Homo sapiens: one gene and its partners. The protein of the gene in region 2 purifies or fractionates together with the protein of the main gene of each other region. This does not show direct contact. Each region holds a gene or a part of one and is shown on either strand. Other genes may lie near its edges. The genes, in order: TBCD, ME1 and PPWD1.

What was found.
Region 1: the proteins of ME1 (region 2) and TBCD fractionate together in Homo sapiens (co-fractionation; one large-scale study listed by BioGRID). This does not show direct contact.
Region 3: the proteins of ME1 (region 2) and PPWD1 fractionate together in Homo sapiens (co-fractionation; one large-scale study listed by BioGRID). This does not show direct contact.

What each region holds. Positions count from the first base shown.
Region 1 is NC_000017.11:82,754,929-82,758,582, forward strand, and holds part of TBCD (tubulin-specific chaperone D), read left to right. Parts: intron 1-318; exon of another isoform or gene 319-388; intron 389-1,236; coding exon 1,237-1,287; intron 1,288-3,654.
Region 2 is NC_000006.12:83,228,440-83,232,093, reverse strand, and holds part of ME1 (NADP-dependent malic enzyme), read left to right. Parts: intron 1-3,162; coding exon 3,163-3,268; intron 3,269-3,654. UniProt on the Homo sapiens protein: Catalyzes the oxidative decarboxylation of (S)-malate in the presence of NADP(+) and divalent metal ions, and decarboxylation of oxaloacetate.
Region 3 is NC_000005.10:65,573,197-65,576,850, forward strand, and holds part of PPWD1 (peptidylprolyl isomerase domain and WD repeat-containing protein 1), read left to right. Parts: intron 1-3,654. UniProt on the Homo sapiens protein: PPIase that catalyzes the cis-trans isomerization of proline imidic peptide bonds in oligopeptides and may therefore assist protein folding. May be involved in pre-mRNA splicing.

The DNA of each region.
Region 1 (3,654 bases), on a different chromosome or scaffold from region 2:
ACGAGTCTCAATCAGTTTAGAAGGTTAAGGGTGTGCCCGTGAGGCAGCCTCAGGAGGTCACATGTCCCCAAGGAAGTCGGGCTACAGCTTAGTTTTACACGTTTTAGGGAGACGTGAGACATCAATCAATACCTGTAAGATGTACATTGGTCTCGTCAGGGAAGGCGGGACATCTTGGGTGGGAGGGCGTCCAGGGCATTGGTGGATTCAAATATTTCACGATTGGTGATTGGTTGAAAGAGTTTATCTGAAGACCTGGAATCCATAGAAGGGATTGTCTAGGTTAAGATAAATTGTGGAGACCAAGGTTTTTCTTATGCAGATGAAGGTTCCAGTTAGCTGGTTTCAGAGAGAATAGATTGTAAATGCTTTTCATCAGACTAAAAAGGTACCAGACTTAGTTAATTTTCTCTTGGATCAGGGAAAAGACCTAGAAAAGGAAGGGATTCTCTACAGAATGTAGCTTTTCCCAGCAAGAGACAACTTAGCAGAACCATTTCAAAATATGTCAAATATATTTTAGGGAAAAATATTTTGATTTCTTTCAGGGCCTGCTGTCTGTCATGTGATGCTGTACTAGAGTCAGGCTGGAATTTGGTGTCTTATTGCTACTTAAGATCGGTTTTAATGCTAATACTGATCAGCTGTGCCTGAATTCCAACGAGAGGAGGGTATAATGAGGCCTATGTGGACCACTCCCCACAATCCCTTAATATCATGAGGCCTGAACTAGTTTTTCAGGTTAAGTTTGGAATGCCCTTGGCCAAGAGGAGGGGTCTGTTAGATGGCTAGGGGGCTTAGAATTTTGTTTTTAGTTTACAGGCATGTTTGGCAGGGGAGTGTGAGAGGAGTGCCAGGGATGTGTGTCTCACAAGGACAGAGTTGAGCTTGGCCCTTAACGGCTGGCAGAGGCAGGAGAGAGTGAAGGAAGGAAGAGGCGAGGAGGAGACTCTGTTAGGAAGAGTATCGAGGCAGTGGGAAAAGAGGAACAGTGTGCCAAGCAAGTAAACTGCACGAGGCTGGGCCACAGTGGCCCTCAAAAGGCTAGAGGGAGGTGGGGCATTCCCTCCAGGTGGCCTGTGTGGCCTCCTTTAGTGAGAGGGGAGGTGTGCTCTTGAGAGCTGGGGAAGAGGTGGAGCTGCCCTGTGGAAGCTAGCAAGGGAAAATGGGGTTTCTGAGGCTCATGGGTATGTTTGGCCTAGTGATAATTAATTTTCATGTTATATTTGTTTTTAGTAATAATGGACAAATACCAGGAGCAGCCTCATCTGTTGGACCCGCACCTTGGTAAGAATAGAAGCTGCTGATTTTGATCATTCAGTTACAGATGACCACGGAGGCCTTGGTGTGTGGTGCTGGCACATGCATGTGCTTTGCCAGGATCAAATGCCAAGAAGTGTCCCTGTCTTGCTTGCCTGGCTGGTTGGTTTTAGCCGACCTGTGATAGTGGCTTGAGTTCCAGATGTCACTCTAGGCTGGGGGGAGATGTGTCTGAGCTACTTAATTCCTTTCTGCTAAGGAAACAACATCTGCTCCTCATGTGTTTTTTTTGTTTTTTTTTCTTTTTTTTGAGACGGAGTCTCGCTCTGTCTCCAGGCTAGAGTGCTGTGGCGCGATCTCAGCTCACTGCATCCTCCAGCTCCCTGGTTCAAGGGATTCTCCTGCCTCTGCCTCCCGAGTAGCTGGGATTACAGGCATGCGCCACCATGCCCAGCTAATTTTTGTATTTTTAGTAGAGACGGGGTTTCACTATGTTGGCCAGGATGGTCTTGATCTCCTGACCTCGTGATCCGCCTGCCTCGGCCTCCCAAAGTGCTGGGATTACAGGCGTGAGCCACCGCGCCTGGCCTCCTCAAGTGTTTTTAGTTTACATTAGTTTATTATTTTAGTTTACATTTGGGCACATGATGTTTTTCTGGTAATAGTCATACAGGGTCAGGTGTTTTACATGGGTCATCATTTAATCCTCACAGCAGCTAAGGAGGGCATCTGTTGTCATCTCCAGTTTACAGATGGGGACACTGAGGCTCGGTTTTCTTACTTTAGTGTAAGGGGTGTGGTTTCTTATTGTTTTCTTTATTTTTGATGTATTTCACACTGATTAAAATTTTTCTTTTTCTACCTACAAATGTGACACATGCTTCTGGCAGTTCACCTGGGAAAGAGGAAGGTGGCAATAGTCACCACGTTGAGAGGGAGCACCCTGGGTGGGGGCACCCTGGCTTCATAGCCCAGTTTCACCATTCAGTTTTTGAGCTGCTCTTTGCCGGGGTTTCCTCGCCCCCCGTGGTGTTGAGATCTGTGTGAGAGACACTAAGGGTCAGCCTTTCATGTGCGCACACGTGCCTCTTAAAGAGTAGTTTGTGCTGTGCATCTTGTTCTGTTTTTTTTTCTTCAAATAACAGATTTTGGCTGGGGGTGGTGGCTCATGCCTGTAATCCCAGCACTTTGGGAGGTGGAGGCGGGTGGATCACTTGAGGTCGGGAGTTCGAGACCAGCATGGCTAACACGATGAAACCCTGTCTCTACTAATAATACAAAACGTTAGCTGGGCATGCTGGCAGTTGCCTGTAGTCCCAGTTACTTGGGAGGCTGAGGCAGGAGAATGGCGTGAACCCGGGAGGCGGAGCTTGCAGTGAGCTGAGATCACGTCACTGCACTCCAGCCTGGGTGACAGAGTGAGACTTCATCTCAAAAAAAAAAAAAAACCAAAAAAAACCCTCTAAATTCGGGATTCAAGAATTCATTGGGATCAGACTTGTCCTTCTGTCCTAGAAAAATTTATAGGCCTTGTGAAGGAGACCAAAGATAGAGGTCCTTGGGAGAGGGTCAGCTGCAGGGAACATGACTCTGACATCTGGTGGAGGGGCTAGCCATGCTGGATGGCGTGGCAGGCAGTGGGCTCCCCAGGCCATATCTTATAGGAGGTCTTGGGTTCCTGGAGTTCCTGTGTGTGAGCGCTGGTTCCCAGGAAACAGATGTGGTCACTGCTCACAAGGTAGCGGGTGGTGTTTTTATATCTCTTCAAGTAACAACGTTGGACCTGTAGTTAAATGCCTTTATTCTTGCCAGACCTCTTTCCAGAGTGGATCATGGAATATTAACACTTGTTGTGAGCTGCTTAGAGTACTGCGAATGATTTTTAGAGTTATTTTCTTTCTTTGCAAAAACTGTTTTTCGCCGGGTGTGGTGGCTTATGCCTGTAATCCCAGCACTTTGGGAGGCCGGGGCGGGTGGATCACCTGAGGTCAGGAGTTTGAGACCAGCCTGACCAACATAGTGAAACCCCGTATCTACTAAAAATGCAAAAATTAGCCGCGTGTGGTGCACGCCTGTAATCCCAGCTACTTGGGGCTGAAGCAGGAGAATTGCCCGAACCCAGGAGGCAGAGGTTGCAGTGAGCCAAGATCGTGCCATTGTACTCCAGCCTGGGCAACAAGAACGAAAACGTCTCGGAAAAAAAAAAAAAAAAAAATAAATAAATAAATAAATTTTTTTTTTTGTAGAGAAGGGGTCTTGCCGTGTTGCCCAGGCTGGTCTCATACCTCTGGGTTCAAGCGGTTCACCCACCTTGGCCTCCTAAAGTGCTGGGATTTCAGGTGTGAGCCAGCGTGCCCAGCTGAGTTCATTATTTTCTGGAATTCCTTTTTAGAA
Region 2 (3,654 bases):
CTTATTCCTATCCTGGGCTGTGGAATAATAGCCCAAAATCTTGGCAGCCTTTGCCCCCATTCTCCTCCCTATGCCCACTATAAACATGTGCTTTTGAAAAGGTAGTAATTAAATCTGGTTATATCTTCTACGATATAGTAAGAATCATCACAATATAAAGGGATAGGGGAGATTAAAGTAATAATATCACAAATAAAGTTTCAGCTATCCATAATATGTTTGAGGTAATTAGAGACTCTTGAAAAAAACAGAGAGAGAAAAGATGCATCATAGAATTTGGGATTTCTGAGGTGAGAGGTGCCCACATGCACTTTGCCAAAAGAAGGCAAAAGGATTTCAGCAAGGGATCCTGAAAAGGGAGAATGAAGGGAAAAGACATCTACTCATCTCCATACCAACTGAAGTTATTGGCATAACGAATATGTATTCCAAATCAGATTTTGAAAAATAAAGAAAAATAAGCCATTAGTCTAGAAAATAGAAGTCCAAAGGTACAGGTAGTTGCCTCAGTATTACCGGATTTAGAAAAGGTTGTCACATTCCAGTAGTTTCTTTAAACTAGGTCATCAAGTCAATTTTGAAAATGGTAGAGAACATACTTGGGAGACATTTTGTGTGTGTGTCTTTTGCTTCTTCTGTTTTGTCAAGTAAGACCTTCAGTATTGCTAGTATTACCATTTCGTGATTCCTGGACTTTTTTCAGCATTCTTTCAGCACTTGTAAGTCATACCAGGAATCAAGCCTTTGAAAGTGTTGCCATGGGTAATTTATGCTTCTTACTAGATGGAATGTCTTCTGGCTAAGTTCTGGCTTCAGTGTCTAGGAGCTGCCAGTGGGTATACTATGATTAATAAAGATGTTTATGATTAAGTATATATCTTTTTCTTTTCATACATTATTCATCTGTCTTTTTTATTATTTGTTTCCCATTCTAGGCAATTTAAATATTTTTCATTATATCTCAGCTTGACAGCCAAAAAAGCTGTGACTTCCAATTTATCTTATTCTATAGCTTTTCTTCTTTAGACTCATTATTGTATACTTTTTTGAAAACATAGCACATAACCTCTTAAAAACGCATGTGGTAGGGATATGATAGATCATTTAGTACACTGATTCTCAAAACTGGCTAATCATTTCTTTTTTTTATTTTTTATTTTTTTGAGACAGAGTCTCGCTGTCGCCCAGGCTGGAGTGCAGTGGTGTGATCTTGGCTTACTGCAAGCTCTGCCTCCTGGGTTTATGCCATTCTCCTGCCTCAGCCTCCTGAGTAGCTGGGACTACAGGCTCCTGCCACCACGCCCAGCTAATTTTTTGTATATTTTTAGTAGAGACGGGGTTTCACCGTGTTAACCAGGATGGTCTCGATCTCCTGACCTCGTGATCCGCCCGCCTCAGCCTCCCAAAGTGCTGGGATTACAGGCATGAGCCACTGCGCCTGGCCTACAGCAGATTATTAATAGGAGAAAATATACCAAAACTTTAAGTGCTGGAATTATGATTTTTTTCTTCTTCACAAAAATTTTAATTGCAACAACAACTAGCATAGAGCTCTTACTATAAACCAGGTACAGTCCTGAGTGTTTTACATGCATTACATTTCATTTACCCCACAAACAACCTGATGAGGTAGAAGTCCTTATTATCCTTATTTACAGATGAGGAGACAAGCACAAAGAGGTTCATATGTTTCAAATTTTTTAATAATTCAGTATATTGCTTTTAAAAACAGAGCCTGTCTCTACTAAAAATATAAAATTAGCCGGGCACATGCCTGTAATCCCAGCTACTTGGAAGGCTGAGGCAGGAGAATAGCTTTAACCCGGGAGGCGGAGGTTGCGGTGAGCCGAGATCGCGCCACTGCACTCCAGCCTGGGCAACATGAGCAAAAACTCTGTCTCAAAAAAAAAAGACAAACAAAACAAAATTAAAAACAACAACAACAACAACAACAACAAAAAAAAACAGAGCCTGGCATGGTGGCTCACGCCTATAATCCTAGTGACTCAGGAGGCTGAAGCGAAAAGATCACTCCTGAGGCCAGAAGTTCGAGACAACCCTGGGCAATATAGCGAGACCCCCATCTCTAAAAAAAAATGATAAATTAGCCAAGCATGGTGGTGCATGCCTGTAGTTCCAGCTACTAGAGAGGCTTAGGTGGGAGGATCCCTTGACCCCAGGAGTTCAAGGCTGCAGTGACCTCTGATCCACAGCACTCCAACTTGCATGACAAAATGAGACCTCATTTCAAACAAACAAAAGCAACAGAAATAAAATGATAATACCCTTTAAAGAAAGAAAATTGTACTATCTTCATTATTAACAATTTGCAAAGACTATGACATACTATTTGTTAAGTTTTTGCCCGGGGTGATTCTGTGCTATATTGAAAAGGCTTTGAGTTCTAGTACAATCTCTTGCCTTGAGCAAGTCCCTTAAAACCTCTGAACATGTTTCCGCATATGTAAAATGACTATACTTATACTTGTCCTGCTTCTCAGAATTGTTGAGGGGATCAAATGAAATATGTGAAAACAACTTGTAAGTCATCAAGTACCATATAAAATTAGGCAGTGATCCATTATGTAGTCAAATCTTTAAAATTTGCAGCTAGAATATTATAATTAGATGTTTACTAGATAACACATGGCGCATTCATAATCAGAACATTAAAAACAAAAACATATAAAATGCATACTTACTGAGAAAATCTAACAATGACATAAATATGACTTCAAATTCTTTTCTTAGTCAGTAGCATAAATTGGTAGGGCTAAAGCTGAAGCCAACTCCAAATTCTGAGACCTGCTATAAAACACAATGTGTGACGAACAATATAATTATTTAAATTATATTTTGCATGGCCATTTGTTAATGCTAGTTCTCACATGTCTGTAAAATTAGGATTTTTAATATCAATTAAATGAAGGACTTTGTTTTGTTCACTGTTACATCTCCATTGCCTAGAACATTGACATATAAATATTTGTTAAACGAATGAATGAAATAACATTCTGACAATTGAAGAAGAGATTTTAAGAATAGCTGTAACACATCATACATAAAAATGTTAAGCATAAATATTTGTAATATATGTACCGAAATTTATTGACCCTCACATGTTTGGCAGATTCTTAATTTTTTCTTACTGGCTTTACTTAGGGACGTGCTTCCTTAACACAAGAGAAAGAGAAGTTTGCCCATGAACATGAAGAAATGAAGAACCTAGAAGCCATTGTTCAAGAAATAAAACCAACTGCCCTCATAGGTAAGCATTTTCTCCTCTCCCTTCTCCCCTACCCCTTATTTTGACCTGATTGTTTTTTTTACTACCAATTTTTGAGGTATAATTTAGCCTTTTTGAATTCAAAAAACTACACGTTCGCTCAAGCGACAGTACCCTGTAGAGACCTAGATTTTTAACTTTAGTCCTGTCGTCTTTCTCTTACTGATCTGAGATGAAGCGTATGGCCCCCTCCTCTAACTCAGCCTGTTAATACCTGGCACGTTCAGCACTTTTCTAGGCTTGATTACTCCAGATAGACAGTGGTTCTCAAATAAGAGGGATTTTTGCCCTGCAGGAAACATTTGGCAATGTCTGGAAGCTTTGAGTTGTCTTAACTAGGGTAGCGGGGTTGGAAGGGAGTAAAGGGA
Region 3 (3,654 bases), on a different chromosome or scaffold from region 2:
TTACCTATTGAACTGGTACTTCAAATTTCAAATGAAGAGTCACTTCCCCTGGAAGGCTTTCACTAGTCATCCTGTCTTGCACAGTTTTTTTATTTTTTATTATTTATTTATTTAATTAATTTATTTTCTGAGACAGAGTTGCACTTGAGTGCAGTGGCATGATCCAGCTCACTGCAACCTCCGCCCCCTGGGTTCAAGCGATTCTCCTGTCTCAGCTTCCCAAGTAGCTGGGACTATAGGCGTGTGCCACCACACTTAGCTAATATATATATATATATATTTTTTTTTTATTAGAGATGGGTTTTTTTTAGTACAGATGGTTTTTTTTTTTTTTTTTTTTTTTTTTTTTTTTTTTTTAAGTACAGACGGGTTTCACCGTGTTAGCCAGGCTGGTCTTGAACTCCTGGCCTCAAGTGATCTGCCTGCCTTGGCGTCCCAAAGTGCTGGGATTACAGGTGTGAGGCACGGTGCCAAGCCAGCAGAGTTTTTTTTAATGTGACTGTAGATCACTGTTTCTTTTAGAGCATTTGATATGGTCATATTATTTGATTAATGTGTATCACCTCCAGTAGACTAAGCCCTATGTGATCTGTTTTAACTTATGATTCTATCTCCAGCAGTGAGAACAGTACCTCACACAAGAGTTACTCAAATATTTTGAAAGAGTGACTCTAGCCATCACTTGTTAGACTGCTAACAAGAATTTGTTACAGCATGTAGTCGTGGAATAAGAGTTTTTAATCCATGCAGTTAAGCGGTTTCTGTGATTGCAACTATTGCCATCAAGTGGTTCTCTGAATCCTCTGAGTCTGGATTGAACCTTTGTAGCAAAGTTTATTGTATGACAGTGTCAGTTCTTTTGTCCTTGGCAGTGACCAATTTGCATTGGATTCCCTGCTGTAAGCTCTTCATAAATTCTGTCAACTCTTTCTAGTGGCGATCTTGATTTGGTGGCACGTGGTAATAAATGAGTTGGTTGTCTGTCTGTCTGAAGTAATATATTTCCAGACAAATGTGAAGATCTGTTTGCCAGCCAAATTATCCTTATGACAAATTTTCTTGTTGGAAGAAGATAGCTTTCCACTCTGCTTTTAAGGAGAAACATTTATCGGTAATACTTTCTTTAATGGTGGCAGATAACTAAATATGACTTGCAATTTAAATATAATTTTAAAATTCTATTAACTTGCAGCTCTTCCAAGATCCCTTAGGCAAAGAAATATTCAGAATCTAGTCTCTGGACACAAATCTCTTTTTTTTTTTTTTTTTTTTTTTTTTGAGACGGAGTCTCGCCCTGTTGCCCAGGCCGGACTGCGGACTGTAGTGGCTCAATCGCGGCTCACTGCAAGCTCCGCTTCCCGGGTTCACGCCATTCTCCTGCCTCAGCCTCCCGAGTAGCTGGGACTACAGGCGCCCGCCACTGCGCCCGGCTAATTTTTTGTATTTTTAGTAGAGACGGGGTTTCACCTTGTTAGCCAGGATGGTCTCGATCTCCTGACCTCATGATCCACCCGCCTCGGCCTCCCAAAGTGCTGGGATTACAGGCGTGAGCCACCGCGCCCGGCCGGCACAAATCTCTTAACACACATACTCTGAGCTGCTCAATCCACTCTATTTGCTCATTGTTGTCTTCAACATTTGCTTAAATGATTAGCCTGAGGTGACAAGAAGTCAGTAGTAGAACTTAAGACAGAAGTGGAGATTCAGAATGAGAGTTTGCCAAAAAAGCCAACCATCAGTTAAATTACTTACAGTGCTAGTGACTAGTAAATGACTGGAATCTCAAGGAGGTGGTAGTGGAGGAGGGTAGTTTCTAACCAGTCGGAATCCTAGTTTAACAGAAAAGAAATTGAATGGGATGGTGTAAATTATCTTTTAGTATTTATTAACCAGGGTCACTATATATGGCTGTGCAGTTGAATATCACAGAAGCCCTGCTATGAAGTCTAGAGCACTCTGAAAAAGATTCTGATCAGGTACTTACCAGGTTGGATAACATTTATGGAATACTTATATAGGGACAGATGACCACCTACAGACCTTATGCCTTAAAAACTGAGTCTTCTCTCCGGCAGAAATGATCATTAGCCCTTCCCTGCAAAATGTGTAGTCCAGCATCCTAGGCTATTCCTGGCACATGAATAAGCAGCGTAATATGTATCAGTCTCCCTGTCTTTGAGACTAGAGACAAGAAAACCTAACAACTAGGCTTTTTAACTGTTCTGTAAGACCTTGACCTTGTGCTTATACCCTAACACACATACCTCATTTTGATTTTTTGAGTTTTGTATATAGTTCTAACCTTATCTAGAAAACACAAGATTATGGTTAATATAAGCATGAAATAAGGATAGAATTAGATGGGACAGAAGTCTGGCTTATTTTCATCTGCAATGGAGAGCTATTTTTGAATGCTACTGTTTGATGCCCTGATTGTGTAGAAAAGAATGTAAAGATCGTTACTCTTTTGGAAGGTTCATAATATGTTAATACAGTTATTGAGATGTGATGCCTATCTTGAAATTTGTGTAATATCAAAAGAAAAGTAAACCAAATTTCCAAACTATAAAGGACACTTATAGAAATAGTCATGTCTACTAAATAACATGTACCTAATGGTAATCTCACTGCCCTGTGTCAGAATAACTTGAGACATTTTCTGAAATATTATGAATTTGTTATAAATTAGTGAGATGAATTCATTCAGCAAAAATTGAGTGCTTGTTATGTCAGGCACGTAACCTTGCTCAAGGACCTCATAGTCTATAGCTGCATTATCCAGTATAAACAGTCACTAGCCACGTGTCTACTGAGCATTTGATAGATGGCTAGTCCAAACTGAGATATGCTGAAAGTGTAAAATACAAGATTTCAAAGACTTAATTTTTTTTAAAAGAATGTAAGTTATCTCAATTTTTTATATTGTTGAGATGATATTCTGGATATTTTGAGTTTAATCAAACATTAAAATGAAATTCACCTGTTTTCTTTATACTTTGTTTAATGTTACTAGACACTTTAAAATTACCTATGTGGCTTGTGTTATATTTCATTGGAAAGTGCTACTCTGTGACTTTTAAAAGGCAGCAGATGTATTCTGTAGAGAAAGCAGTAGTTCTATTAACCAACCGGGTTTTGTTTTAAATTAGAAGAACCAGTTACCATTTTGAAATACAATTTTTTTTTTTTTTTTTTTTTGAGACGGAGTCTCACTCTGTCCCCCAGGCCAGAGTGCAGTGGCGCAATTTCGGCTCACTGCAGCGTCTGCCTCCTAGGTTCAAGCGATTCTCTTGCCCCAGCCTCCCGAGTAGCTGGGATTACAGGCACACATCACCATGCCCGGCTAAGTTTTTATGTTTTTAGTGGAGACGGGGTTTCACCATGTTGGCCAGGCTGTTCTTGAACTGATGTCAGGTGATCCACCTGCCTTGGCCTCCCAAAATGCTGGGATTAGAGGCATAAGCCACCATGCCCAGCCTGAAATACTATTTTTTAGTGATTGGACTTACTAATGTCTATTTCATATTGTTTAGAATCCCTCTTAAGAAGTACAAACAGTTAGTGGCTCTTAATATGTATTCTGCTTCTATTTAAATTCTCATTGCATATATAGATAGATGGGTTGATATAGATATAGGTATATGTATATAGAGT